Regions from separate parts of the Homo sapiens genome. Here region 2 is linked to region 1. The links come from fine-mapping of genetic effects on gene expression. A gene starts in region 1. The other region holds a variant in brackets. All regions are shown on one strand. Distances are between the middles of the regions. Region 1 holds the start of RREB1 (ras responsive element binding protein 1). Region 2 overlaps RREB1 (ras responsive element binding protein 1).

Region 1 (15,147 bases):
CACTCTTCTTAGAATTGATCTTGGCTAGGGGCAGTGGCTCACACCTGTAATCCCAGCACTTTGGGAAGCAGAGGTGGGCAGGAGTTCAAGACCAGCCTGACCAACCTGGAGAAACCCTGTCTCTACTAAAAATACAAAATTAGCTGGGCATGGTGGCGCATGCCTGTAATCCCAGCTACTCAGGAGGCTGAGGCAGGAGGATCGCTTGAACCCGAAAGGCAGAGGTTGCAGTGAGCCGAGATCGCACCATTGCACTCCAGCCTGGGCAACAAGAGCGAAACTCAAAAAGAAAAAAAGAAAAAAGATCAGCCTGGCCAACATGGTGAAACCCCATCTCTACAAAAATACAAAAATTAGCCAGGCATGATGATGGGCGCCTGTAATCCAAGCCACTCAGGAGGCTGAGGCGGTAGAATAGCTTGAACCCAGAAGGCAGAGGTTGCAGTGAGCCGAGATTGCGCCATTGCACTCTAGCCTGGGCAACAGAGTGAGACTCTGTCTCAAAAAAAAAAAAAAGAAAGAAAGAAACAAGGAAAAGAAAAGAAAAAAAGAAGTGATTTCTGCTGGGCACAGTGGCTCACACCTGTAATCCCGGCACTTTGGGAGGCCAAGGCGGGAGGATCACTTGAGGTCAGGAGTTCGAGACCAACTTGGTCAACATGGTAAACCCCATCTGTACTAAAAATACAAAAATTAGCTGGGCATGGTGGTGGGTACCTGTAATCCCAGCTACTTAGGAGGCTGAGGCAGGAGAATTGCTTGAACCCGGGAGGCAAAGGTTGCAGTGAGCTGATATTGCACCACTGCACTCTAGCCTGGGCAACAGAGTGAGACTATGTCTCAAAAAAATAAAAAGAAAAAAAAAGAAGTGATCTCTTTGCTCTGAACTCCTGGATTTTGTATGTATTTAATTTTTTTTATTATATGTTAGATTACGTCTCAAAAAAAGTGATCTCTTTGCTCTGAACTGAATTTGGTATGTATTTAATGTTTTTTATTATATGTTTTATGTTATATTATATATTATATATATTAATATATATTATATGTTAATTAACATATAATATATAATATTATATGTTAATTAACATATAATATATAATATTATATGTTAATTAACATATAATATATAATATTATATATAATATAATATATATAATATATAATATTATATATAATATAATATATATAATATAATATATAATATATTATTTTATTTCATGATTACATCATGAGGATGCAGAGATCAGATTGCAAGCTCTTTTAAGGCACAGATTATAAATTACCCATTTTTGTATCAGTTCTCCACTACAGAACCCAGCACAATTCCATATATGTCTATACAGCTCAGCTTTATTGGGATATAACTCACATACCATACAATTCACCCATTTAAAATGTACAATTCAATGGATTTTTAGTATATTTAGAGTTGTGTACCCTAACCACAATCAATTTTAAAACACTTTAATTTTAATTAATTTTAATTTTTTTGAGACAGGGTCTCACTCTGTCGCTGAGTCTGGAATGCAGTGGCACAAGCATAGCTCACTGCACCCTTGATCTACCAAGCTCAAGTGATTTTCCAGCCTCAGACTCCCAAGTAGCTGGGACTATAAGCATATGCCACCATGTCTGGCTAAGTTTTTAATTTTTTTTAATTTTTCCTTGAGATGGTGTTGTGTTCTGTCGCCAGGCTGGAGTGCAGTGGTGCGATCCTGGCTCACTGCTATCTCCACCTCTGCCTCTTGGGTTCAAGGGATTCCCCTGCCTCATCTTCCCCAGTAGCTGGGACTACAGGCACACACCACTATGCCCAACTAATTTTTTTTTGTATTTTAGTAGAGACGAGGTTTCACCATGTTGGCCAGGATGTTTTTTTTTTTCTTTTTTAGACAGAGTCTCGCGGGAGTGCAATGGCGCGATCTCAGCTCACTGCAACCTCCACCTCCTGGGTTCAAGCGATTCTTCTGCCTCAGGCTCCCAAGTAGCTGGGATTACAGGCACCCGCCACCATGCCCGGCTAATTTTTTGTATTTTTAGTAGAGACAGGGTTTCACCACGTTGGCCAGGCTGGTCTCAAATCCCTGGCCTCAAGCGATCCTCTGCCTTGACTTCCCAAAGTGCTGGGATTACAGGCAGGAGCCACCTTGCCTGGTCTACACTGTTGTTGCTGTTGTTTTGTGAATGGGAAGCAAGATACTTCTTATATGGCAGAGTGAGAGGGAGTGAGAGAGTGGGAGACAGGGAGGGGGAAGGGGAGAGGTGGAAAGAGGAGGGAGGAGGGAGGAGGTGGGGAGAGGGGTAGTCTGGCCTACTACATTTTTAGCATCCCAAAAAGAAACCCCACACATTAGCAGTCAATCCCTACTTCTCCCTAGTCCTCAGTTCTAGGCAACCATTAATCTACTTTCCATCTCTATCAATTTGCCTATTCTGGACATTTCATATAAACGGAATCATCCATTATTTGTCCTGTTGGGTCTGACTTCTTTCATTTAGCATAATGTTTTCAAGATTCATCCATGTTGTATCGTGCATCAGTACTTCATTCCTTTTGATGGCTGAATAACAGTCTATGTATGGCTGTATCACATTTTGTTTATCCATCCACCAACTGATGAATATTTGAGTTGTTTCCACTTTTTGGCTATTGTGAATAGTGCTGCTATGAATATTTGAGTACAAGTTTTTATGTGGACATATGTTTTCATTTCTTGTTTATGTACCTAAGAGCGGAATTGCTGGGTCATATGGCAACTCTGTGTTTAACATTTCGAGGAACTGCCAAGCTATTTTTCAAAGTGGCTGCATCATTGTACATTCTCACCAGCAATGTATGAAGGTTTCAATTTCTCCATACTCTCTTCAACACTTATTGTCTGTTTTTTTATTATAAACATCCTAGTGGGTGTGAAGTGGCATCTCATCATGGTTTAGATAGCATGACTCCTGAACAGCTGGTTTGACTGCCAAGTTTATTAATTAGCTAGAAATGAGAAACACAGGGCCCAGCATCATGATACTCCAATTTTGAAAATATAACATGTAATAGGCTGGGCACAATGGCTTACACCTGTAATCCCAGCAATTTGGGAGGCCAAGGTGGGAGAATCACTTGAGCCCTAGAGCCTGAGACCAGCCTGGGCAACATAGCAAGACCTCCTCTCTACTAAAACTTTTAAAATTAACTAGATGTGGTGACATGCACTGTAGTCCCACCTACTTGGGAGGCTAAAGGTGGAGGATCACTTGAGACCAGGAATTCAAAGCTGCAGTGAGTTGTGATCCCACCACTGAACTCCAGCCCGGGCAACAGAGTGATGCTCTGTCTCCAAAAAAAAAAAAAAATTAAAAAAAGTTGTAGTAAAACTGTTTTCAATCTTTTTTGTTGCCAGTATTTTCTAGATGGCATTATACAGGTGGCAATTTGTCATGAAAATTCATATAGCATTGGAGATTTGCTAAATTATGCATAAAATTCCAATTTTGATATTTTTCCTATTCAAAACTTATCCCTGAATGGGGAGACCAGGAAAGGCTAGCTCCTGAATCAGAGACAAAGTGAGTAAATAAAGTAGCATTCCCCACAGGGCCCTTCCTCTGCCCTCATTGGAACACATTACAACTTAGAAACACAAGACACCTATTCTATGATGGCAATGTGAACTATTATTCCTGTCTAGAGACCTGCCCATCTCCTCCACGACTGGCCTGTCTTCAAAAAAGCATTTGATAATACATTTGGGGGCGGCGGGGTTGGGGGAGGCTCAGAAAAATGCAACCGCTAAAATTTCTCTGGATGGAGTTTTCTTCAGTAAACAGTAGACCCTGGGAAACATAACAGGTTCCGAAAACTTAATTTTGATGACTGAAAGTCAGAGAAACAGCCAGCTGAATCAGCTCCTTCTTGGGCAGTGGTTTAGCCTACTTATCTCATATCAGACCTAAGGGTCCAGCTGCTTTTCCTTGGTTCTAAAGAGTTCTATTCTGGCCAGGACCCATCCCGAGACAGACACTTCTGTCTGCAGCCCTGAAAACTAGAGGTCAATGGAAGGGCTCAAATTAAAGGCCCACAGTTGGGCTTACAACTCTCCATGGTGTTCAAGCCTTCTCAGAGGAGCTGGTGTGGTGGAGCCAGGGTCAAAGGTCATAGTAAATAGAAAGTAGCCAGCTTTCTGCCTGCATAACATCATCTTGCCTAACCAGACTCAAACGCTTAATTCTACTGTAGTATTCTTTGGACATTCTTCTTTAGAACTACGGGGGCGGGGGGGGGGGGGCGTGTTTATTTTCAACAACCACAATCATCCTTATCTTTCTGAAGATGTTTCCAAAGGCTGAGAACAGACCCCTTTCAGAACCTCGGTAGGAGAAGTATTAACAGTTGGAAACATGTCAGCTGCTTTATGGAGGAAGCACAGCCCAGGCCTGGTTTCTCTGGGCTCCGTGATAACTTGGGGCAAGGCAGCCAGTGCGAAGCGTGGTGGCAGGAGCTGGAGAGATGGAGAGCGGCTCGGAGAAGGGCCCCTGCTTTTCAGAGTTGAAACAGGAGCCCTCTGAGAGAAAGAGATACTGCGTGTGGCTTCTCTGAAGCCTTGGAGGGCGACGTGGATGACACAGCATCAGCCATTCCATCGCGGGGTGGGGACACAGTGGCGGCAGGAACCGTCCTCAGCCCCTGGCGGCCACGGCAGTTCCCCGCTGAAGCATCCTTTGTGGGGTGTGGGTAAGGGAGGGGGACCAAAGTCGGGTCGGAGTTGAGTTTGTTAGACGGCGAGCACACTCAGGGCGGCAGCCCGAGTAAGAAGGATGGCCCCGGGAGAGAAACGGCTCGAAGCTAGGGGCGGGGTGAAGCGCCTGCTCCTTAATCTCCTGCCCCATCATCCACTCGCCCCACCTGGATGCAGAGCGAGGACCGCGTGGAAAGGAAACGGCGCGGGCGGGGCTCCCCCTCGCAGATGCCTCGGAGACCCAGAGGGGCGGCGTCAGGCCAGGGCCCCGAGCCCTACGCCCCCCATCCCCCCAACTCCAGCGCCTCTGAGGTGCCCCTCTCGCAATTCCGAGGCATCACCGTGTCTCCCCCGCCTCCGTTAAAATAGTGAAACTGCGGAGTGAAGTGATGGAAAGCCGGGGGCGGGGAGTCGCCCGCGGCGAGGGGCTGCAGGGGAGGGGGCGCGGTGGCCGAATAAGGTGGCCCGCGAGCAACGGGACGATTGGGATCGCAGCCAGTCGCGGCCTCCCGGACCCTTCCCCTCGGGCAGCCCGGCCCTCCCATGGCCCGGGGCGCCTTGGGAGGGCGTAGGGCAAACCTGGGGCTGCGGTGGGGGGTGGGGAGGGGACTCCACCTCCATCCATCCCGGGATGGCAACTGCGGTCACCCTGCTAAAGTCGGGGCGGGGGCGGCGGTCCTCCCCCTCACCCCCCCCAGTCCGAGCGCCGCCGCCGCCGCCGCCGCCGCCGCCGCGGCCGCTCAGTAACACGTCCCCAGGAGACTCGCAGGAGCAACACGTGATGTGTCTACTTATCAGGGTGAGAGGGGGAGAGCGAGACTCCGAGCGTGCGGGCGAGGAAGCTGGGCGGGGGGCCGAGACGGGGGCCGGGACGACGGCTGGGGCGCCGGGGTCGCCAGCTCCTCGCCCACCTCCCTCCCTGTGGGAGAAGAGGAGGAGGGGAAGTGACTGCGGAGTTGATGAACTTTGCACATCCAGAAACGCCATTTTGATTCCTTTTCCGGAACAAGTTTGCATCTCTCCTCGGTCTCTCCCTGAAGCCCACCGGTCCCCAACGCATCATGCCAGGGAGCCAAGCGTCCTGCCCGGCCGTAAGTACGTGCCCCGGATTCCGACTCGCGGTACGCCGGCGGCAGCGAGAAGTCTGGGGCACAGCCGGAGCGACCTTTTAAAGAACTTTGGGGATGGGGAGGGTGAAGTCTGCAGAGCGCGTTGTACTTTTGAAACTCGGTGTGTCCCGGAGCCGGGGACCCGCACGCCCCACTCCGCGCAGCGTGCGCTCGGGCCGGCGGGGCGGCCAGGGATGAGCGGGGCAGCCCTCTCCCCTCGGGCTGCGCGCCGGGCCATTCCTCCTCCTCCTCCTCCTCCTCCCCTTCCTCCGCTCTTTTCCCTTTCCCGAGCCGCCGGCTCTGCCAACCAGCTCCCAGCGCGAGCCGCCGCAGCGCCCCGCCAGCAGGACCTGATGCGCATCCATATTAGCCGTCCGAGCGCAGGAATCCGGCCCGACCCGCGCCGCCGAGTTTATTTTTAACCAGCACCGCCGGGACTCGGATGGTGCGCGCACCGCCGGCCAGAAACATCTTCCCAGCGCTGCTCTCCATCTTCCGCCCTCTCTCCCTCGACATCCTCCCCCCCATGTGGGAGGGGAAACTTTTCTCCTACATACTTTCGAGTCCTTCTCGGGCCGGGAAGCGCGGAGATGACGGCGCCCGCCCTCCCGCCGCCGCCCTAAGGTATCCGGGGGTGCCTGCCCGGGGTGCTCGCGCGGGGGTGCCTGCTCGGGGCTGCTCGGTGGGAGCATCCGCCGCGCCCTGCTCTGCGGACTTTGAACCTCCCGGGCGGACGGCGCCGGCCGGGAGGGGGCCGCGGGCAGCCCCGCGCCCTCGCGGGTTCCCGGCTGGCGGTCGTGGTCACGCCGACCACCGCCCCGGGGGGCCTGGGGAGGAGGGGACCGGGCCCTAGCCGTGCGGGCACGTATTGTTCCCTCGCCCTTCCGTTGGCGGGGTGAGTGTTTTCGTGGGAGCCCTCGGTGTGGAGCTAGCCTGCCTCGCGGGCGGGGGGGGTGGGGGGCTCGGCGCCGTCACGAGCACAGGAAGGAGGCCGGGAGCATCCGAGGCGGGGCCGGCCGCCGGGGCCCGCTCCGCCGCCCAGCTGTGGAGCGCGCTCGGAAACTTTTGTCCGCCGCCCGCTGGACCAGTTTTTCACGAGTTCTGGGGCTTCCCTTCCTCCTCCCATCCCGGCCCCCGGCGTCTAGCTGGGTGGGGGGAGGGGGCCTGTTGCTGCCCCCCCCGCCCCCAACTTCCCGCACAAGCCTTGGGCCGGGCCCCCCGCGCCCCCTCCCCGCTCGCGGTCTCTTAGGAAACTGCGACCTTAATGGTTGCTAAGGAGCAGGGGAGGTCCTTCCCGTCGCCGACCCCCTCCCTGGGAAGCGGCGTGTTTTCTGGACCGGGCCAAGGGCGCGTCGAGGATGTGACCTGCTCCGCGGCCGCGCGTGAGTGCGGGGCGCGTCGGCCGAGCCCACCGATGGGCGAGGCCACCTTTCTCTCCGGGCGGGGCGGGGAGCTGGGGGACGCGGGGACCCCACGGGGTGCGGGCCCGGGCCGCTTGACAGGCGCCGCGTGCAGCTCGCGCCCCTCGGCCGCCGTGCATCCGTGATGGGTTATAAAAGAGGAGGAAAGTATTTCTCCTTGCTCAGCAGATTTGCCCTCCCTCGCTCCTTACTGGTTAGGAGATAGAACGTGAGCCCAGATCCGGACGAGCAGTTCACATTCCATTACGAAATTCTACACGGCTTCAGAGCCAGCAGCAGCACACATTCGGGGCACTTTGGAGGGGTTTTCTTCGTTTGAGGATGCTCCTGCTGCTGCTGCTTGTGATGGTGGTGGATGTGGAGAGAGACAAAAGGGTGAATAAAAAAATATAACGTTTTGGTATGTTGAAAAACCTGTCCGGGGGTTTTCATTAGTAGAAAATTGAACCCTCTTAGAGTTTAGATTTAAGCTTAGCTCTTTAAAAGCCAGTGGAAATAAAGTTTGCCTGTTGAATGGTGTTGCTGGAAATAGCGAGGAATTTCTGTCTTAAGAAGAAATGATTTCTGCAAAGGCAGAGTTGCTAGTGCATCTCCATTATTTTTGATATTTTTTTTCCCCTTTATATATGTAGTGGACCCTGCATGTGTGCGAGTTGATTCTGAAATAAGTTTAATTGAAGTGGAAGGTGGGGAAAAGAGAACTGCCAAGAAAAGAATGTGGTTTAGTTTTGTTTTTTCACACCCATGAAAATCATCCTCTAGATTTGGTGCTTTTTCAAGTAGGCAGGTATAGTTTCTAAGACATATTTCAACCCGGAAGTCTGAGTTAGATAGAGGCCAAAGTGTTGGCTAAAACCTCTTTGAAAAACAAACGTTGAGTTTTGTGCTATCTTCAAGAGTCCACAGAACTTCTGAAGGAATGGGTTCGAGCTACTCTACAAGTAATTTATACAAAGACAGAATCACTAATTTTAGGGGTGGTGTGTGTGTGTGTGTGTATGTGTTTACCTCCGCCCTTTGGAGGGAGCCTTCTGGGTACCCGCTGATGGGTCCTGCTTTGATGTGCTTTGAGCTTTGGTTACACTGATGAATTAAACATTTGAATGGCTTTAATCAAGTTTTAAATGTGTTAAAAAAATACCTTTCCCCCATTTTTACAAAAGAAAAGGAGAGAAGAACTCTTTGATTTAGTTATTTGCTTAGCTTGTGCTCCATTTTAGGTTAATGAACTTGCATTGTCTTTGTCTTAAAAATACTGCTAAACTGGTTGCATTTTAGAATGTCTTGTTTTTAAAGAGGATTTGCTGGATGTGTAATACTCTTAAGAAATGCTGCCGATGCTTACCGTTTTGTGGAATATCATTCTCTGGGTTTTTCTAGATACTGCTTTATTTCTCATCAGAAAATCAGACTCTAAGCCCTTATGGCAGACAAGTATTTGTTATGTGATGGGGAACATGCGTCTTATTGAGCTGGTACAGGTAGTGCATCCATTCCTAACTAGTTACATCATCCAACAAGCGACCTTTTGATTGAAGGGTCTTTTAAATTTCTTCGGGCAGACTCCCAAGGCCTTATTTGTATCCAACACAGGTACAGCGTGTTGAAGGAAGAAAATAAACCTACACGTATTAGTCCAGCATCTGATCAACAGCAGTTTATTGGTTACCTGCTGTGTGCCAGGCACTGTACAGTGTAGCTGCCTTAGGTCGTTTTTGCTCTTCAATTTTGAACTGTTGCGTTATTCCACTTCTGAGGTCAGTTAGGAAGTCTTTGCTTGCTATCTTATGCTTGCTTGCTAACATCATTTATCACCTTCAGCTAAGGAAATGTCCTAGTTAATGAAGTTTTAAAATGCTACCCTTTTAGGATTTTGCTCAGCATAATTAATATAAATTTAACTCCTATAAGAATTGGTTAAATATATTCTTTGGAAACAGAAGTGAATTCTTTTGATGTTTCTGTTCATTATCCTTCTGAAAAGTAGGTGGTGCTTAGAAGGTCATAGGATAAGGGTTGCTAAGCAGCTAAACAGAAGGATGCTAAAATTAACCAAAGCATTTTTGAAAGGGAGTCATTCCCTGTTTTACATTATTTACTAGGTTTAGTTAATTTCTGAATCTTCTATGTCCTTTGACCTGGGAAGGTAGGATGTTAAAGTTTGTTTTGGTTTTGTTATTATATTTAAATAATCTCTTTCTTTTGTAAGTGTCTTTAATTGAAGTTCAGTACTCTATGACCAGCCTTGTGGTGTCAGATGGCAGCTTGTCTGGTGGACTTCTTGACTATTACCAGTGTGTTCAGGTTGAACCTTCCTGAGGATTTGTGTGTATAGTACCCTCTTATTTCTAGTATTAATAACTGATTCCATGGTTTGTTTTGGAAATTCTGCATAATCCATAAAGTTATGTCTTTTATTCCGCATGAAACAGATTTGTATTCAAAGATAGAAATGCAATTTAGTATCAGTAGAAAGTATGCAATGTAGTCTGTCCTGATAAGGGGACAATAGCTTTCTTTCCCCCTTTACTGAGATTACCATTCCCTTAGATTAGGTTTTGATAGGGCTTCTCCTCCATTTCATTCCACCTCCCTAGTGCAGTTTATTCCGCCCAGTTCATAGCTATCTTTTTAAAAATAATTATATTAGGTTCAGAGTATCTTTGGAAGGACTGGCCAAATGTCAGAAAACAAAAATAGGTGTGATGTACATTACATTTCTGCCAAAAGTATGTTCAAGTATCTTGAAGTTTTTCATTGAGATAAAATGGTTGAAATCTAATTGAAGCCATGATGAGTAACTATCATCTCTTGGTTGAATGGTAAGCCTGTTGTAAGCCAAAAGTTTCCCTGCTTCAAGGTTAATTTCTGTACATCTGACCTATTGAACAGGCAGTGTTGAGTCATATTTTTTATGTCCAAATATAATTAAGAAATTGATAAATGTATTTTCTTTCTGTTTCTTTTCTCTCTTTCTTTCCTGATTTAGACAGTGATTTTTGAGTAGAAGTAGCCATGGCAGTTTTCAAAGAGCAAGGGTCAGACAGTGATTTCCACAGGGGGGTGAGGGTTGCAGGGTTGCAGGTACCTTATATCAAAGGTAAAAGGTACACCGTATGAAACCCAGAGGGAGGCATACGGTGTGCTCTCTGAAATGCATCACTTATTTTTCATTTCCCCCACTCCCATAGAAGGCAGAATACAGAAAAGAAAACTACTGTTGTTTTCATTACTACGGAGGTAAAAGAATGAGGAAGGTGGAGAGGGGTTTTTCCTTTTTTGTTAGCAGTCCTGTCGGCAATGTCATCGACTGTGCTCCGCCCAATTTCTCTTGTCACGTTCTCTGGTGTTCAGCGTGGTCTGAACTGCAGCCGAGTGTAGCTGGGGATTGCACTCTGCCGTTGGCAGTGGCGGGTTGGGGTGAAGCGGATGGGGAGGAGGAGACTGGGAGCGATCGGTGCATCTTATTTCTGGTGGGACTTCAAGGGTACTGAAGTTAGCCAGTCTGCCCATCAGTAGAGGTGGCTGACTGTGAGTAGGTGCTTCAGACGAAAGCATGGGAGAGGGTGGAGATTGTTTGTTCAGTGTGATTCAAGCCAGTAAAGCTAAGAGAATTCGAAAACCTCTGTGAAGTCCGGGGACTGGGGACTGGGTCCTGACTGCTCCTGCAGGGATTCACCTGAGGGCTTGCAGACATCATGAGGGTGGGTGGAGAAAGAGAATGAAAACCCCCACAGGCATTGTCAGACAGCCAGAGTGAAGAGAAAACGTCTCAGTGGGGGTAATTAGATAAAGCTTTTAAATGCTCTATTTGTTTTTCTCTAGTTTGCTTGGTATTTCATCTCTTTCCCCCTTTTCAGAGACTATGGGATAGAATTGTTATGAAAGTGTCTGATACTTCTGGTGGTTTAATCACTTTAAAATTTTTCTTTTTCATTCAGATATACCTTCTAGGACTTAGTTAATTTCACCCTGCTTTTGTGGAGGCCTTTAGCAAAGATTCCACGTTCATGCTGAGAGGAACACTGTGGGAGTTGGGTGGGTATGTTGACCCATTTTACAGCTGCGCGGTGGTCCACCCGGGGGCTGTTAATGAATCAAACTTGGAACCCAGAACTCCTAACTCCAGCCTAGCCCTGTAGAACAGCTGCTTTTTAGAGTCAGTTTGACCTCAGGAGGACTTAGCAGCATTAAATATATACTGCCTATTTATCTCCATGTGTATGGTGTGTGGTTTTTAAATAAGACCAGATCCTTTTCAAAATAAACCTAATTGAGTTTGAAGGTATAAGGAAATTTTAAAAAGCACTTCTGCTCTTGGTAGCATTTCTGTTGATGAACTGTGATGACATGTATCTTTTTAGTAGCCTTTCTACCTCATGAGATTGTTGTAAGGATAAAGTAGATGTTCCAGAAAGTCAAAATCTATAAACGGAAGAAAGTGGTATATTTTGAGCTCAGGAAGCTTTGTGGGTATCCATTCTGGATTTCCTTTCCAGAATTTTGCACACCTCCATTACCTTAGTCAAATTTTGCCTAGGAGTTTATGTTCAGATTGGGGAAATGCAGCACTTTGTTTTTGTTTTTAGTGCTGGGAGACTAACAGGACTAGCAAATTCTTCTTAATGTGGTTCACTTAGGTGAGGCAGAGTCTTGCTGTCGCCCAGGATGGAGTGCAGTGGCACAATCTTGCCTGTCTGCAACCTCCACCTCCAGGGTTCAAGCGATTCTCCTGCCTCAGTCTCCTGAGCAGGTGGGACTACAGGCACACACCACCACGCCCAGCTAATTTTTGTATTTTTAGTAGTAACAGGGTTTCACCATGTTGATCAGGGTGAGGGATGAGTTTTAAGGAAAAAGCTGATGACAAGCTTGGGGCTTACTCTTTGAAGAAGTGGTTCTCAACCTGGTGGGTTTGCCCCCAGGGGACTTTTGGCACTGTCTGGAGACATTTTTAAGTGTTTCTGGTGGGGGGGGGGGCGGCAGCGGGGAGCTGCTACTGGCCTTTAGTGCATAGACCCCAAAGATGCTGTTCCACATCTTGGAGTGCACAGAACGACCCCCATACGTCAGCAGAGCTGAGGTTGAGAAAGCCTGCTTGAAAGGTACAGTAGTCGTGGCCTGGGTCTCATCTACAAGTCCACTGGGTGCGCTGCCTGTATTGCATGCGATATATTTAGAAATCTGAAATTCCATAAAGCAAGTAAGCTCTTATTTGCCTCTGAGGTACCATGGTTGGCAAGTTCGAAGTTTCACAGAAAATTTGGGGTTGAGGAAAATGTTAAGTGGCATTAAATATATTTGAAAACCCCGTAGTAAATGAAAATTCTAGAAGTCATCTACTTCTAAAACAAACTAGATTCATTGGCTTTGTGAAGCTGTTGTGGTCGATGGCTCAGCTTTCCCAGTCACCTCTTCAGTTATTTGGGAAACTTGCTCTGGTGCTGTCATCTGCAGCCTCCTTCATGTTCTAAGTTATGTGGAGTATACCTTTTTTTTTTTTTAAGTGTTTGAACTAGCCCTTACTTGCTTAACAGTTAATGTTTTTGCATTCGTAGTCTCCCTTGTTTTATTTTCTCAAGTTTTTGCAAAATTCTTACATAACCGTCTGCCGTTTTTATAGGGCAGTGTTTCTGAGCCGGGTGCTCTGTCCATACATCTCCTCTTGAGAGGGTGGATGGCTGCCAGCTGCTGTGGTTGGGAGGGATAGGGAGGGAGTAAGGGGATGCAGGGTAGGAGGCGGTGATTATTTTTATGTTAAGGGACCCCAGGCCTCAGACCAGAAATGTCTAATATAGTGTCAGGAGTGATCTTTTAGCCAGCAAGTGTTAACTGATCTGACCCTTGGCCTTCCCCCCCACCCCCCAGCCTATCACACAGACAGGAGGTAAGGAAACCATAGAGGGGAGAAGAAAACAGGGAGACAGAGATCGAATTCCAGAAAAGGAAGGGCTGCCAGTGGTAGGCAGAGTCACCCCTAGAGTGGCCTGGGCTCCCACTTTATAGACATGTGCAATACTTGAAGATAGCTCTTTTTACATCTAAACCAGCGGTTAGTCAGTGTCCCATTGGTGTCAGTCGCACTGATGGTGCTCAGGGCCATTGCTCTGCAGCCACCTTTGCAGTCCCATACGTGGTAACGAGTCCTGTTCCTGCAGAACGCACTCTGCGTTCTGGTGCTTTTCTGTCTTCTCGTCTAACCTATAAACTGCCAACTCCCAACTCTATATCTCCATTTACAACTTCTCCCAAGCTTGAACCTTTTGTCACCCTGATCACCCTGCAAGTACCTTACCCTGCAGGTACTTGTAAAAATGAAAGTCCTCTCCCTTCCTTCTGGAAGGTGATCACCATCCACCCAGCCTTCTAGGCCAGGAGTCTTACTGCCGTCCTGACGTATGTCTGTCCTGCCCCAATGTTCGATCAGTCACCAGGCCCTCTGCAAAACCACACTCCAGTCTGGCCCTGGCATTGGCTGTTCTATCGTTTCTGACCTAAGGCCCTCATCAAGTCACAAACGCCTCCCAAGTTAATTTCCTGCCACCAGTTTCTCCTTACTGCAGTTCATCCTCCACTCTGCTGCCAGAATCATCAGAACTAAAGCCGTGCGTGGTGTTTGCCTGCTTAAAAACATCTCTTGGCTCTCTGTTGTCTACAGGAAGAAATCCAAACTCCTTAACTTGGCATACAAGGAACTTCGTCTGCTTCCAAGCTGAATTTCTAGTCTCAGCTCTTGTCACTCTCTTCTACCCCACTGCCACACTGAATTGATTCTTACTGCCTCCTGTTGCCTGGATTGTTCATTCTGTTGCATCCCCATCCCCTTCCTTCAGCAATAAAAATTTTGTACTCTTTTTTTCAAGACCCAGCTTAAATACTACCTCTTCTATGGAGAATTAGCTCTTCTGTTGTGAGTAACTTTTACCCCCATCTGTCAAGTCTTGTCTGTTGTAATTTATCTCTTAACATGTTTCTCTCACTTCAAGAATATTTTCCCATCTCCTGCACCTAGAACGATTGCATAGTTGGTGCTCACTCACCACTGTGTGTTGATTTCTGATACAAAAATGAGAGTTTCTGAAGATTTTGGAGAATAGCCACATGTAATTTGGAAGCTAAGGCCTAAATAGTGCTACAAATTCAATGAAGGAAATAGACATGAACTAACGATTTCAGCATACCCATCATGCAGAAGGTGGTGCTAGGTGGGAAAGAATTAAGTTCTTTGGTGGGAAAGAATTTTGAATTACAGAAATTCTAAAATAAAAGTTGGCTCAGCTTAATGTAAAAGTGAAAAAAACTCCTTGTTAATGCCTGGTTGCACTAAAAGCTGTCACACTGGGGCCTTTACTAATTATAACCATTTTTCATGGCTCTTGATTTGAAGTTTACATTAAATAGGAGAGATGGGCACACAGATCAAAGACCAAAATCATTTCAGAGCTCCAATGTGTGGGCCCATTTTCTCTGCTTAGTTAGAGTTTTGTTTCATTAGTGGTATGAGTTAATAGGAGTGTTGGTCTGTGTATAATTTAGCTTCTCTTTTTTCCATTACTCGTAGGATTCAAAACAGAATACCAAGCCAGAAATCTACAGGGTATAAATCTTGCTTTATGTGTTTGTATGTGTCTGTGTATGTGCAGTATACACGTGGTAATAGTTGATTTTAGATCATATTTATAAAAATAATCATTTTCACTGTTTTAAGGGAGCTCCCTTTATTCTGACACTTCAGTGTAAAAAACAAAACATTTCTCTGAATATACAAAATCAAAATCTTAATTTTCTCATAAAAGAGGTAGATATGTCTTCAGAAATAGGGGAGATAACCAGGAAGATGGGGTGGGTGTTCTGAAACACAAAGGTGAACCATGTGAATAGGTT
Region 2 (15,147 bases), 140 kb after region 1:
TGCTAAAACACTCCCCCTAGTGGGAGTTTGGTAGAATACAACCAAGCCCCCTGTGTCCAAAGAGGGAGTTGGCCTTTCATTGTACTCCGGGTGATCTCTCTCCATTATCCGCGCAAAGGAAGGGCCCGAGAGCAGGAACAATTTGATCTTATATTTCTTTGGGTTTTGTTTCAAAATTTATTTTACTTTCTTTAAAGCTCTATCATGTTAAATATGTTCTGTGCAGTTAAAATAATGCATGTTCTTTGCTGAAAAAAAAAAAATAGAAGTGTAGTCTAGGATATACTGGGGACAAAGGGGAAGTAACCAGAGATTAAACCTTCTTTTAAAAATTACCAGTCGGGCGTGGTGGCGCATGCCTGTAATCCTAGCCCTTTTAGAGGCCGAGGAAGGTGGATCACCTGAGGTCAGGAGTTCTGAGACCAGCCTGGCCAACATGGTGAAACCCTGTCTCCACTAAAAATACAAAAATTAGCTGGGCATGGTGGCTCACACCTGTAATCCCAGCTACTTGGGAGGCTGAGACAGGAGAATCGCCTGAACCCAGGAGGCAGAGGTTACGGTGAGCTGAGACTGCACCACTGCACTCCAGCCCGGGTGACAGAGCAAGACTCCATCTCAAAAAAAAAAAAAAAAATTACTTACAAAGGCCAGCCACAGTTGCTTATGCCTATAACCTCAGCACTTTGGGAGGCCAAGGCAGGAGGACCCCTTGAGCCCAGGAGTTCGAGACCAGCCTGGGCAACATAGGGAGACCCTGACTCTAGGGAGGGAAATTACCCACAAAGCCAGCAAACAAATTGAGCGTTCTGTATTTTTATTGTAGAGTTTATACCAATATCCATTCTATAGATGCTCTCTGTTGAAATGATTCAAGAAAAACGAACATCTAGTTTTTCCTTGGAATGTGGCCCAGACATTGGTGTGCATATCCCAGGACTCATATTCTTTAAGCTTTTGGATAATTTTGCAAAATCATTTCTTCTTTAAAATGTTATATTCACACCATAATATTTCTTTCTGAAACCTCTTGAGATACCCAAACAGTGGCTGCCAAAAAGTGCAGTCAGTGTAAAACTAATGAAATGAAATGATGTAAGTAGCCGCGTTATGCAGATGGCTGTGGGTAAAGCCTAAAGCCCCAAGCAGGTGTGAACAGTAGGTACTGTCTCCTCAGACCTCAGGACGGGGCAGAACCAGCTCCTTACCCCAGCCCTCCTGACCGCCTTGATGGCAAATCATCAAGCATGTGACATTGAGGAGGTGTGATGGATGCAGGTTGACATTGTAGTTACACCTGATCACGTCAAGTGAGAATCCAGGTTAGGTGCGTGAATCTGCTGGCTCAAGGACTGCAATCACATCTGGCCTATTGAGGGAGGGGCATCTCGTACTTGTGCCATAAAACAATGACTTTCATCCACCCAATTATCAGAGGAACTTGAATCCCTGCAGTAATAAATCAGACAGTGGCCGGGCACGGTGGCTCACGCCTGTAATCCCAGCACTTTGGGAGGCTGAGGTGGGTAGATCGCCTGAGGTCAGGAGTTCGAGACCAGCCTGGCGAACATGATGAAACCCCATCTCTACTAAAAATACAAAAATCAGCTGGGCGTGGTGGTGGGCGCCTGTAATCCCAGCTCTTGGGAGGCTGAGGCAGGAGAATTGCTTGAACCCGGGAGGTGGAGGTTGCAGTGAGTGGAGATCACACCATTGCACTCCAGCCTGGGCGACAAGGCGAAACTCCGTCTTGAAAAAATAATAAAAACTAAATCAGACATAGGATCTGCAGCTAAATAATAGGTCCCACCAGCTTCCAATGTACTGTCGTAATGCATAATTTTAAGAAGTTATTAAGTCTTCTTTCAACCTTAGTAAAGAGAAGGCCTTTTGACACTGTTTGATGTGAATATTGCAGCCGTGCCATCCCTTAAAAGGACTGTTGAAAACTGATAGGCTTTCCACATACAGTTTTACTGGGTGGAATGGACAGATAGGAACAAATCAAGAGGCAGGAAGTCAGGGTAGGTGAGATGCCTGGAACCCAGAACCCCTTGTCTTCACAGGCACCCACAGCCCTTCACAGTCCGCTCCCCTCACTGTGTGCTGTTGCCAAGCCTGGCATCAAGGGTGCCCTTCCTTTGAAAGATTCCACCACCCCTGGGAGGCTGACAGCTAGGAAGCCTACAAGCTTGCCTGCGCCCCCTTGGGTCTCTGCAGCCTCCACCTGGAGATGAGCGTCAGGCAAGAGTGTGCATACCATACACACACAACGCAGGCTTGGGGTCGTTTCCTGTGAAACTCATCAAGACCATGCTTTGGAGGATTAGGGGTAGGGGTGGTCCTGTGTATGTTGCATGTTTGTATGATCTCTTTGCACTGGAAAAATAACTTATAACTCAAGCTTCCTCAACTTCCCTAGCGCTGCGAGTCTCTGGAATGCACCCCTCTCCTATCTCGCAGCCCCTGTCTGCCCTGCCTGAGTCACTCACACCTTCCTGGGGGCGGGGGCAGTGGAAGCCAGGGGTTCAGGGGCACAGCCAGCCCTGGGAACACACCTGAGGTGATGTGGAGGCTGCTTTTGCCTTTCTTCACGTCCCCAGGGTCATCTTGGTCCTCCTGGGGGATGTAACAGGTGGTGAGGATTTGGGCCGAAAGAAGTCCTCACTGGTTTGGGGTTCAGGCTGCTGGCGTGGGTCTAGCCCATTCCCGGCGACATCCCTGGCATGGGCGTACCTGGTGGTGCCCCTCTGAGCCCTCCCCGCTGTGCTTGCCCCACAGACAGTCAGTCGGATGCGGAGACTGCAGCCGCCGCGGGCGAAGTGCTAGACCTCACCTCACGGGACAGAGAGCAGCCGTCGGAGGGCGCCACTGAGCTCCGCCAGGTCGCAGGGGATGCGCCTGTGGAGCAGGCCACGGCGGAAACGGCCTCGCCGGTGCACCGGGAAGAGCACGGGCGTGGGGAGAGCCATGAGCCGGAGGAGGAGCATGGCACTGAGGAGAGCACTGGGGACGCCGACGGCGCGGAAGAGGACGCGTCGAGCAACCAGAGCCTGGACCTGGACTTCGCCACCAAGCTCATGGACTTCAAGCTGGCGGAGGGCGACGGCGAGGCAGGCGCCGGGGGCGCGGCCTCGCAGGAGCAGAAGCTCGCCTGCGACACCTGTGGGAAGAGCTTCAAGTTCCTGGGCACCCTGAGCCGCCACCGGAAGGCGCACGGCCGCCAGGAGCCCAAGGACGAGAAGGGAGATGGCGCCAGCACTGCAGAGGAGGGGCCCCAGCCCGCCCCTGAACAGGAGGAGAAGCCCCCCGAGACCCCGGCAGAGGTGGTGGAGTCGGCCCCGGGTGCCGGGGAGGCCCCGGCGGAAAAGCTCGCGGAGGAGACGGAGGGCCCCTCCGACGGGGAGAGCGCGGCCGAGAAAAGGTCCTCAGAGAAGAGCGACGATGACAAGAAACCAAAGACAGACTCCCCCAAAAGCGTGGCCAGCAAGGCAGACAAGAGGAAGAAGGTCTGCAGCGTGTGCAACAAGCGGTTCTGGTCGCTGCAGGACCTGACCCGGCACATGCGCTCCCACACAGGTAACCAGGGCAGGCCAGGTCCCCGGCCCAACAAGAGGAGGCGAGCCGGGCACCTCTCCTAGGAGCTCCCCTGAAGCGGCGCTGGAGGCCACCGAGAGAACGTTTGCTTACGTTGCCGGTGTGCCCTTTAAGCCCGTGAACTAGGAGTTTTAAGGAGTTGTACTCTCAGCCCTTGAAGACGGTGCAGGCCTCCTGCAGCCAGGCAGGAGAGGGTCCTTGGCCGTTGTGTTTTTGAGAACGCTGTGATCCGCCTTTAGCTCTGCTGCCTCCGCCTCCCCATCTGTAGAGTGGGGGTAACAGCTGCCCTGTTTCATAGAGGTATCTAGGAGAGGGTGCTTGTGCTGGGCATTTGGGCCACTTAGTCCTGTCTAGTCCTGTGGCCTGGACGACAGGCACTGCCCCAGGCCGCTGTGGGGCAGGCACCCTGGGTGATCCATTAGGGTCAGGAGGGCCTTTTCCTTTCTTAGCCGTGCAGTTCGGCTGAGATGACTGGGACAGGACCCTTAGCCACTGCCCTTCACACCGTTCTAGAGTTCACCCACCACCTGCAGGGTGGAGGCTGCAGACCCCAGAGCAGGGGCGCTTACTTTGACACAAAGACCTGAATATGCTCATGGAGTCCAGAGATATATCCTTCTTCTTTCCAAAATAACCTGTCCCTCCTCTCAGCCGCAGCTTCCCTCCCTGTCACAGCTGCAGCCCGCAGTGAACACATGTGCCCCGACCCAGCGCAGTCGGCTCTGCCCTGCGCTTGCCCGTGTGAAGGGCCAGGGTCCTTGGCTCTCAGAAGAGGGATATTCTTGGGCTCCCAACAAGCGTGGTGGGCCCTGCCCTGGGCCTGGCGTGTGAGCCATCAGGAAAGCCCCCGCTGCACCACATCGCAATGCAGAGGGTAACTGGTGCCCCCGACCTAGGTGCTGCTGTCCATACAGATCCCTGAGAGGGTCCACTCCTGTCCCCCTCTAGATTCCTTCCCAGTCTCTGGTCGAGGCCAGTCTGCACATCTCCTGAGGCTTCTGCTTCTGGGACCTGGGTTTTCTGGATCAGTATGTAGAGTGCCTGGGCTGAGAGAGGAAGGAGAGGAAAGGTCTCAGACTGACAGCTTGAACCAGCAAACAGAGCTTGTCCGTCCTCAGTTTGCTGGTTCAAGGAAGAGGCCTCTGGCTGAGTAGGACGGAGTCCTGGCCCCCCGCACATAGCCTGGGAGCCTCATTCTTCCTGTGCAGAGCAGGGTGCAGTGGGTACTGGTGCCTTTTGGTTAATGGAAATTCTTTCTTCCATTGTTCCAGGGGAAAGGCCATACAAATGTCAGACCTGCGAGCGAACCTTCACCTTGAAGCACAGCCTGGTTCGCCACCAGCGGATCCACCAGAAAGCCAGGCATGCCAAACACCACGGGAAGGACAGCGACAAGGAAGAGCGGGGTGAGGAGGACAGCGAGAATGAGTCCACCCACAGCGGCAACAACGCCGTCTCAGAGAACGAGGCTGAGCTGGCTCCCAATGCCAGCAACCACATGGCTGTCACCCGGAGCCGGAAGGAGGGCTTGGCCAGTGCCACCAAGGACTGCAGCCACAGGGAGGAGAAGGTCACGGCAGGGTGGCCGTCTGAGCCTGGCCAGGGTGACCTTAACCCAGAGAGCCCGGCGGCCCTGGGGCAGGACCTGCTGGAGCCGCGCAGCAAGAGGCCTGCCCACCCAATCCTGGCCACAGCTGATGGCGCCTCCCAGCTCGTGGGGATGGAGTGACAGCCTCAGTCCCCCTCAGCACAGACAAAAGCCAGCAGAGCAAAGCGTCTATACTTCATGGGGTTTCCTCAGTGCCCTTTGGCTGTTGAGGAGTGAGAGAGAGAGAGAGAGAGAGAGAGAGAGAGAGAGAGAGAGACAAGCAGGAGCGTGGCTGCTCGCTCAGTGCCATAGCCTTACCGCAGCCTGCGCGGGAGGCCACAGCCCGTGCCGATTCCAGTGCCTTAACTACTTACCGGATCCCTCCATATTATCATGGGTGTTGTATTTTTCCAAAATGACTTCTTAAACAAAACAAATATTATAATGAATTGTCTGGAGAGGACCTCTTCATTTGAGCATTAGCGTTATTTTGTATTGGTGTGTGTGAGCTTGTTCTTGTGAATCTGTGATAGCACCGTTTGTTCTGTGAGCTGGAAACAGAAGGAAAAAACATACCCTTGGGTACCCATAGCCAATAACTGGAAGAAAATGATGTGAATTTCATGTAAATGACCAGAGGAAAGATGGATAAGATGATAATTTCTTAAATAGACATTTTCCTTTTTTCTTTGTGCTTCATGGTGGAGCTGTCATCTGGTCCTTGGTATTACAGGATGTGGTTGATGAAGGTTTCCAATATGGTTTCAGGCCAAAACCAGGGAAGATTCTAGCTTCAGCCTCATGTCCATTTCCAGTCTGTCAGCATTAGACATGGTCACTGTTCAAGTTTCAAGACATCCATTCTTAACTATAGAGAAGAGTTACTCCCCTGGCGTCTTAACCTATGGAAAACATGCACGGATAGGATATATTTGATTGCCTCCTCTTCCCTTTCAGTATATGTATTATTAATATTATTATTATTATTATTATTATTAGTTCATCAGTTTGCTGTTCTCTGCAGTGAGCAGAATCAAATGGGCAATATTTGTCCTGGGAGACCTGTGCCGCACCCAGGTCCCCGTGTTAACGTGTGCCTGCGGTTGTGGTTGGCACCCTCGGGTGGTAGCTCTTCTACTGTAATGAGACAAGCCTTTCTTCTGTCACTGCAGAATTTAGAAGGGGCCGTGAGCAGTCTTCCCAAGCATGGTCCAGGAGCAGCTCAGAGAGGGTGGAGTGAGGATGCATGCATCCAGGGAACAGGCATCAAGAAGCCAGGGCCGTGCCTGGAGCACTGCAGAGATGACTTTGGAGAAAGCAAAGCAGTGACCCAGTGACCAGGCACATTACTCGTGAGCGAGGTATTCCCAGTCTTCCTGCTAAGCCTAATCCAAGCCTTACCCAGCTGTGCTACTGTCATTTGCAAAGCAAGGAAATACTACTACTGGTAATAAAACTACACATGCAAGATGTCAGATAAGAAATAGGTTTATATTTACCTTCCTGCGATGTGGGGTTGGTGCTTGAAGATAAATGTGCTGTTTCTAGTTTCTTAAATAGCCCACACCCCTGGATGCAAAAAGGCAGGGTTATTTTTACCCATGAGCATCCTGTGCAGGCAATAGACTTCCCTCACTGTCTCCGCCTGCAGGGAGGAGAATGTACCCCACTGCACCTGAGCTCCTGGTCCCTCAGCCAAGACCTCAGGGGTCCCCAGCCAGCCTGCTGCTGGGGACCCCTGTGCTTGCTGCAGTGTATGGAGCCTCTTGCCTTCCCCTGGGGAGGCACCCCTGTACCCCAGCTTCCTTCCCCTGGCCTTTTCTGGCCCCAGTGCTCCTCCTTTACATAGACTTGTTCACACAGAAACGTGCACGCCCCCTTTTCTCCGCCACTTCACCAGTTTCTGAAATCCAACCTCCCAGACTTCACAGGAAGATAGATATTCTTGAGATAATGAAAAGTGATATCTTCGCATACGAAAGGAAAAAAGGTTGAGGTATATATGATTTTTAACTGTATTAGGGGTGTATGAACCAGTTTAAAAACGAGGTTTTATTTACTGTAGAGATGAATGCAAATCAGAACCAATGATCCCTTGGCCTACTTAGTTAAAACCAGTTCATACATCCCTTAGGGTTTTTATTATTATTATTATTATTATTACAGTTGTTATTGTTGTTTTTGTTGTTATTATTATTTGGGGTTTCTTGTGTTTTTTCTTTGCGACTCTCCACACTAAACTTGCAATATTGTGGGGAGAAGCTGTGACTAAACTCTACGCTGCGGTGAGATGTAGCAGTAATCAGCTCCCAGCGACGTGTGTAGCTGGGGCTGCCGCTCGCAATAATCACTATTGATTTAAAGCTTTACTTAGCCTTGATCTGTACCCTCGTAGTCAATAAGGTCTTGCCACATTTTATTAGTGAGGTGGAGAAACGTATTATTTGTTTGTTGTTTTTGCCCTTCCCCCACCCCCCAATATTAAACTGTGAAATTTGTGATTTGTTTAAACTCTGGGTGAATCATAGCTTAGTTTGCATGTCCAGCTAATTTGTTTCTATACATTTTGTTTGATTCTCTTTCTCCTTCTCTCAGGGCTTTTACAAAAAAATATATATATATGGATCTTCTGAAAAGTTTTTTGAGGTGCAAGTTTTTTCTCTTTTTTTTTTTTTTTTTTTTTTCTCATTGATTAATGGACATGATGCTGAGATTCAATCACTACATGAAACACCTGGCTGTGAAAACAAAACAACCCAGAGGGCTGTGTTCCAAGCAGCGCTGGGGAAGCTACGTAACAGTCGGATGCCAGTTTTGGAAGATTCACCATGCGTTCTGACCCTCTGTTCGTCTCTTTCCTCTCCTCTTTCTTCAAGAAGGAAATTGATCCTAGTGATTTCAGCCCATGCATTAAACAGGAAACAATAATAAATTTGTAGAATTCATATTTTTCTAAAGGGAACTTAAAAACTGCTGCTACATGTTATGTACAAAACTGGTTTATGCCACATGAACAGAGAATCACAAGTTTGGTTTTGGTACTTTTTGTTCCTCTTTGTATTCAGTTGTATAGAACTTCCAAATTCAGAATGAGAAGAAAGCTGTTCTGTATCAAACCATTTAAGCAATAAATGTTATATTTTAAAAGCTGCAGATTGCCGGTCACGTGGCCGTCCTGTGATTTGTTGTGATCCCATCCCCAAACCCACAGCCCACTTGGGGCAGGTCCCAGGTGTGCAGTACCATTGGGGGGAGTCACAGGTGCCCAGGAAAGCTCTTGTCACCCAGGCAGCATTTTTATTTGCGCTGGAGGCTGTGGCAGTGACTCTTGCCTATGCTCCCAGCACTTTGGGAAGCCAAAGCAGGAGATTCACTTGAAACCAGAAGTTCAAGACCAGCCTGGGCAAAATAGTGAGACCCCTATCTCTAGAAAAAAATGTTTAAGAACTAGCTTGGCATGGTGGTACATGCCTGTTGTCCCAGCTATTTGGGAGG[T/C]TGAGGCAGGAGGATCGCTTGAGCCCAGGAGTTTGAGGTTGCAATGAGCTACGATCGTTCCTCTGCCCTCCAGCCTGGGGGACACAGCAAGACCCTGCTGTATGTAAAAGCACTCGGCTGCAGTTGTGAGAGCTGCTTTGAGAGCATGTGGAAAGTTAAGTGCATGGCCACTGTCAGAGCTTCAGAGTGGAGATCTTGGTGTTGGGTGCACAGGGCCAGGAGGCTGGACCTAATGAGGCACCACAGTGCAGGCCACTCTGTCATTGGCTAAAGCCAGCATTTTTGTTTCCTGTGCAATAATGCCTAAGAAGTCCGCCTCGCCTCTTCTTCCTCCAACCCAGTGGTAAGTGATTGAGTCAGCACCTAGTGGAGGGAGAACAAAATCTGTTAGTGTGACCAGATTTTGGTGAGACGGGAGGGGACAGCAACCCTAGGGCTGGGGATGGTGCAGGTTAAAACTCACATTTGGGTAAAATAGCAATCAGCAGAGCCCCAACTCCTAGCAGAGCCTCAACTCCTATAACTAGGGAGTGGCTCTCAAAAAGCAACACTGGGGGCTGGGTGCGGTGTCTCACGCCTGTAATCCCAGCACTTTGGGAGGCCGAGGTGGGTGGATCACAAGGTCAGGAGATTGAGACCATCCTGGCTAACACGGTGAAACACCATCTCTACTAAAAATACAAAAATTAGCCAGGCATGGTGGCAGGTGCCTATAGTCCCAGCTACTCGGGAGGCTGAGGCAGGAGAATGGTGTGAACCCGCGAGGCAGAGCTTGTATTAAGCCGAGATCGCACCACTGCACTCCAGCCTGGGCGACAGAGTGAGACTCCATCTCAAAAAAACAAACACTGGGCCGGGAGTGGCGGCTCACACCTGTAATCCCAGCACTTTGGGAGGCCAAGGCGGGAGGATCACTTGAGGTCAGGAGTTCGAGACCAGCCTGGCCAACATGGTGAAACTCCATCTCTACTAAAACTGCAAAAAAATTTGGGTGTGGTGGTGTGTGCCTGTAATCCCAGCTACTCGGGAGGCTGAGGCACGAGACTCCCTTGGACCCAGGAGGCAGAGGTTGCAGTGAGCCGAGATGCCGCCACTGCACTCCAGCCTGGGCCAACACAGTGAAACTGTCTCAAAAAAAAAAAAAAAAAAAAAACGAACACTGAAAGAAGTTGGTTGTGGAGGAGGCTGATTGTGGATAATGCTAAAATGCATTGAGTGCACTGTACCATACACTGCTAAGTGCCACCTCCCTGCAGGACCAGAGCTGTGGCTGTGGTCCTTAAGCTTTTTCAGGCCCCTCTGTTGAAAGACGTAGAATTTAACACACATTTATATGTGGGAGCTTGGGGGATCCGCATGCCTGAGTGGGCGGTGGCAGGTGGAGATGTACTAGCCCTGGGTAAGCGGATCTCAAACCTCAGGTCCTCCGCCCAAAGACATAGCCAACCACCTGCGCTGTGTTAGAGATGCAGGACAAAGAAGTGGCCACGAGCTGTGTTGCTGGGGACAAGCTGGCTGGCATGACAATCCCAGTTCTGCCTCTTCGGGCTGGTGAATGGCCTTGTGCCTCAATTTCACCATTCCTAAGAAAGGGATAGCGATAGTACCTGCCTCATGGGCACTGTTGTGTGGATGCTATGAGTTAATTACATAAGGTGCATGTTAGGGGCTCTCGTTATTGTTTCTACAGTCTTCTCATGGGAATGCTTCCTTGGTTGCCTGGTGAGGAAGTAGGTAGAACTTCACCACACACATTCATGGCACAGTGCGGGGAACAGCCAGAGGAGGGCCTTGTGGGAGATCACCAAGATGCAGGCACTGTCTTTGAACCCCAGGGAGTCTTGTCACCTTCTCCTACCTGGCCTCCTCTGGCCCTGTAATCCCACTACCTTCCCGCTCAGCCTGTGACCTCCCCATGGCCCCAGGACTCTGCCTGGGCCTTGGTGCTTATCCAGCATCCCCACCCTGGACCAAAGCCTCCTCCACTGGAGGAGGGCATGGGGCATGGGGATGGGGGAGCTGGCGGCATAGACCTAGCACCCAGGATGAGGCCTAGTCCCTTGTTACCTTACTGCTCAGAGTGTCGTCTGAAGACCCAAAGCATCAGCATCCCTGGGAGCTTGTTAGAAATGGCAACCTCAGGTTGACCTGGTGCGGTGGTGCATGCCTGTTGTCCCAGCACTTTGGGAGGCTGAGGCAAGAGAATCGCTTGAGGCCAGGAGCTCAAGGCTGCAGTGAGCTATGTTCACACTCCAGCCTGATTGACAGAGCGAGATCGCATCTTCACAAAAATAAAAACGTAAACCAAAAAATAAAAGAAATGAGAACCTCTGACCCACCCAGACCTGCTGAGTCAGAATTTGCATGTGAACAAGGGCCACAGTGGATATGTGCACACATTGAAGTTTGAGAAGCTCCGGTCTAGACCCCAAAGCTTGGTTCAGAATAAGGTGGATGGCGGACTCGGCAGCTGGCTGCAGAGACGGCTGTGGATTCTCCCCCTCAAAGACAGAATCCATCTCAGAATGAGTGGGCAGAAGCCACATATGGCTTTAGAGAGTGCCGATCTTGGCCCTCCAGAGGTTCCTTCCACAGTCCCTACTCCAGCCCCAGCACAGACTCAGCCACTGCCTAAACCCGAGTGCCCCAAGAGTCTTGTTTGGGGTTTCTGCCTGTTTGCCATCCTTGTGGATTCCAAAGGCTACTTTGAAAGGGCTGAGGAGCGAGTGGGGCCTCCAACCACTGGCCAACAGCGCCAGCTGCCTGCTTGCCTGTCCTGGTGTTAAGCCTTGGGCCTGGAGCGCTCAGGCCTCTCCCCTTCATAACCACCTCCCTGAGGAGGACAGGAGTGAGGGAGGATGACTAGGCTTATTTTAAGCTTGTAATTGAAGGTTGCTCTTTAGCAACAAAAGAGTCCCCTCCAATTCTAGACTGCCAGAGTCAGTGTCCTAAATAAGAAACAAGCGGTCACTCCTTTCCCGTTTTACTGTTAGGGGAAGGAAGCCACAGCCCAGTGGGGAAGTGACATCCCTGGCCCTTGCCGTTCACCACTTCAAGTCTTGCCCAGCTGTCAGGGCAGGAATTCATGTCCCCACGGTGGCATCTGCTTCCCAGGCTGTGGGGCCAGCAAGGGGCTCAGCTGCTCCCCAGCCCTGCCTTCCTCCATGGATCTGACATGACTCTTTTATGGGAATTTACGTAAAAGTAACGCCTTGCTCAGTGTGGAAAATTTAGGAGCTTCAGGAAAATATAAAGAAAATTAAGGAAGTCATCTCGCTTCTCAAATACCGTGTTAATTTGGTGAGTGTTGCTCTTTTCATTGGGCCTCACTTTTCCCTTCCTCATTCTCAGATGTGTTTGTACAGGACTTTGCACACTGCAGTGTTTTCCTGTGGTTTTTGTTTCTTTTCTTCACCCAAGTCCAGTGAGCTGTGAAGGAAAAAAAATCCTTATTCCTTCAGAGCAGGGACGAGCATTGAAATGATTTGCCCAGGTCAGCTGGCTATTGAGTGCTTTTGTTGGGATGAAATTCTCCACCAGAAAAATCCTAAAACAGAAGTCCCCAAGAATGGGTGGTGTGTGTCGTCCACTGAAAAGGGAGTTACTGAAAACTAGGAATGCGTGGCCTCTAGGAAACATGGCACTGTTGTGATTTGGCACATAGATATTTGGCATACATATTCCCAGGGTCACTGAGTAAATTCCCAACTGTTCCAGTTCTCTTTTGCTGCATGACGAAGAACACCAAAACTTTGGGTCAGGATTCGGTGGGTTGGGCAGGGCTCTGCAGGGATGGCTCATCTGTCCTCCATGAGGCATCAGCTAGGGCAGAGCCTCCAAGACCATTTTTTCTCGCTCATATCAGGTGCCTCTGTGTGTACAACCCACCCACTCACCTACCCACTAAAAGAACCATTCTTTGGGTTGCTTGTTAAAAATTGCATTTCAGGCCGGGTGCAGTGGCTCACACCTGTAATCCCAGAACTTTGGGAGGCCAAGGTGGGCAGATCACCTGAGGTCAGGAGTTCAAGACCAGCCTGGCCAACATGGTGAAACTCCATCTCTACTAAAAATACAAAAATTAGGCTGGCATGGTGGCAGGTGTCTGTAATCCTAGCTACTCGGGAGGCTGAGGCGGGAGAATCACTTGAACATGGGAGGCAGATGTTACCATGAGCCAAGATCACGCCACTGCATTCCAGCCTGGGTGACAAGAGTGAGACTCTGTCTCAAAAAAAAAAAAAAAATTGCATTTCAGATCTACTAATTCAGGATCTCAGGAGGGAGGACCCAGCCATATACATTTTTAGCAAATTCCTAGAGAATTTGCTAAAGCCCAGAAAAGTTTGCAAACCAGGGCTCTGTTAAAGACTGTTCCAGATTCCTGCCCCTCAGTTGTACCTCTAGTTGCCCCTCAAGCTAACACCAAGGCAAATTGTTTGCAATGGAGCCATTGTTTGGTCTGGGGTAACTCTCTGATATCTAGGATATGTACTGGAAACTTCCTTCAAGCCTCCTGCCTGGCCTCTTTCCCTGCTTTTGCAGCCACTCCTCTACATACATTGGCACAGGTGCTCCCACCCAACTTTACCACCTACCCCCCAAAAGGGAACTTCTAAGAACCTGTGGCTGGGCTCGACCTTGGCACTGAGTCTAGGAGCAGTTGCCTCCACCTGGCTTACCTCCCTGAAGCTTTGGGTCCCTGGTCTCCTGATACGCACTTGTCAGGGCTGGCTCATAATGCTGGGATCCATATGGATAAATGAAAATGTGGGGCCCCACTCTGTCGCCTGGGCTGGAGTGCAATGGCACAATCTCAGCTCACTGCAAACTCCACCTCCTGGGTTCAAGCAGTTCTCGTGCTTCAGCCTCCTGAGTAGCTGGGACTGTAGGCATATGCCACCACAATTGGCTAATTTTTTTTGTATTTTTAGTAGAGACAAGGTTTTACCATGTTGCCCAGGCTGGTCTCGAACTTCTGGCTGCCTCAAGTGATCTGCCCTCTTGGTCTCCCAAAGTGCTGAGATTACAGACATGAGCCACTGTGCCCATCTTGTGTTTGTTTTTGTTTTGTTTTGTTTTTTGTTTTTTAAGAGACACGGTCTCACTCTGTCGCCCAGGGTGGAGTGTAGCGACGCAATCTGAGCTCACTGCAGCCTCAATCTCTCAGGCTCAAGTGATCCTCCTGCCTCAGCTTCTCGAGTAGCTAGGACCAAGGTGCACACCACCACACCCGGCTAATTTTTTTGTATGTTTTGTAGGATGGGGTTTCGCCATGTTGCCCAGGCTGGTCTCAAATTCCTGGGCTCAAGCAATCCTCCCACCGCGGCCTTCCAAGTGTTGGGATTACAGCGTGAGCCACTGTGCCCGGCCAATGGGCTCTCCAAGGCCACATTACCTTAGACATTGGGATACTTACATGCAGGTGTCCACAGGTGCCTGAGATCTCACATCCACCCGACCCTCTCTGCCTCCACACCCAGGCCTCCACCAGGAGCCAAGGGGGCCGCAATCACTAGGCAAGGGCAGGGGGTTGAGTGGCCAAGAGCCCGTCCCAGGGAGGCAGGAGAGAGAGGGAGGCAGGACCACATAGGAGCCAGGGCTCCCGGCAGCCAGTGCACACTCCATTGTCCCATCAGAGTTCACTGACGAATCTCAGTTCAAAGATAGTATCGTAAAGAGTTTCAAGATGGGGCCCTGGGAGCATTGAACTCCAAGCACAGGCCCTCGCAGGGGTCCCACTGCAGGAAGCCGGCCCTGCTGCTGACCCTGCCCACCTCCCTCAGCTCCTTGGTCCTGTCGGGTCTCCCTGCTGACCCCATGGCACTGCTCCACGCTCCTGTCTGTGGGGCCCCCGTCTGTCCCCACCTAGAATTCTGTTTCCATACCAAGGCCTAACCAATGGCCCCTGACCCCGTTCAGTGTTTTGAACCAGCCACTCCTGTTTTTGGCGGCCCTGCCCTCCCATGAATCTCACGCCCACGGCTGCCCTCGGATCTGGACACAGTTGCACTTGTTATCTGGTATCAGCACTAGGGAGGCTCAGTCAAGCCAGCACTAACGGTGGGTTTGGTGTCCTTGGGACTTCTCCACCCAGGGCCTGTGCCAAGGCTGGTCCTCAGTGCTTGGTCAAGAGTGGCTCTGGCGGCTCTGGGGTGGTGGCCTCTGCAGCTCAGTGCCCCTGCCACCCATGCTCACTGGATGGGGGCAACACCCTTCCTCCCAGTTCAGGGTGGATGGGCCCCAGAGCACCACCCAGCCAGCCAAGCCTCCTTGCCCCTGCCCTGCCCTCCGAATGGCCCAGATCATACCTGCTGCCTTTCTTTCCTAGCTCACTGCCTCCACCCAAGTCACCTTCTGTCCTGACTCCCAAGGACTTGGGTCCCACTGGGGAAGTCGGGAGGAAATGGGAAGCCTTCCTGACTGTGAGTGAGGGCAGGAGGGGAGGTGGGGTCAGAGAGGGCACC

What was found. PIP is the estimated chance that this variant, and not a neighbour inherited with it, causes the effect.
Region 2: its variant is fine-mapped to the expression of RREB1 in fibroblasts (GTEx, PIP 0.99).

What each region holds. Positions count from the first base shown.
Region 1 is chr6:7,102,237-7,117,383 of GRCh38, forward strand. It overlaps RREB1 (ras responsive element binding protein 1), which reads left to right and starts at 5,725. Exons shown (of 13, transcript NM_001003699.4): 1 at 5,725-5,824. RefSeq lists an enhancer at 4,534-4,593 and silencers at 4,944-5,423, 5,484-5,703, 6,494-6,983, 7,004-7,093, 13,220-13,514.
Region 2 is chr6:7,243,643-7,258,789 of GRCh38, forward strand. It overlaps RREB1 (ras responsive element binding protein 1), which reads left to right. Exons shown (of 13, transcript NM_001003699.4): 12 at 2,782-3,579; 13 at 4,869-8,338. The coding sequence ends at 5,326. Among named protein-coding and RNA genes, the nearest start is that of SSR1, 62 kb to the right of the region's middle. RefSeq lists an enhancer at 14,740-15,147. The variant T/C (reference allele first, on the strand shown) is at 8,681.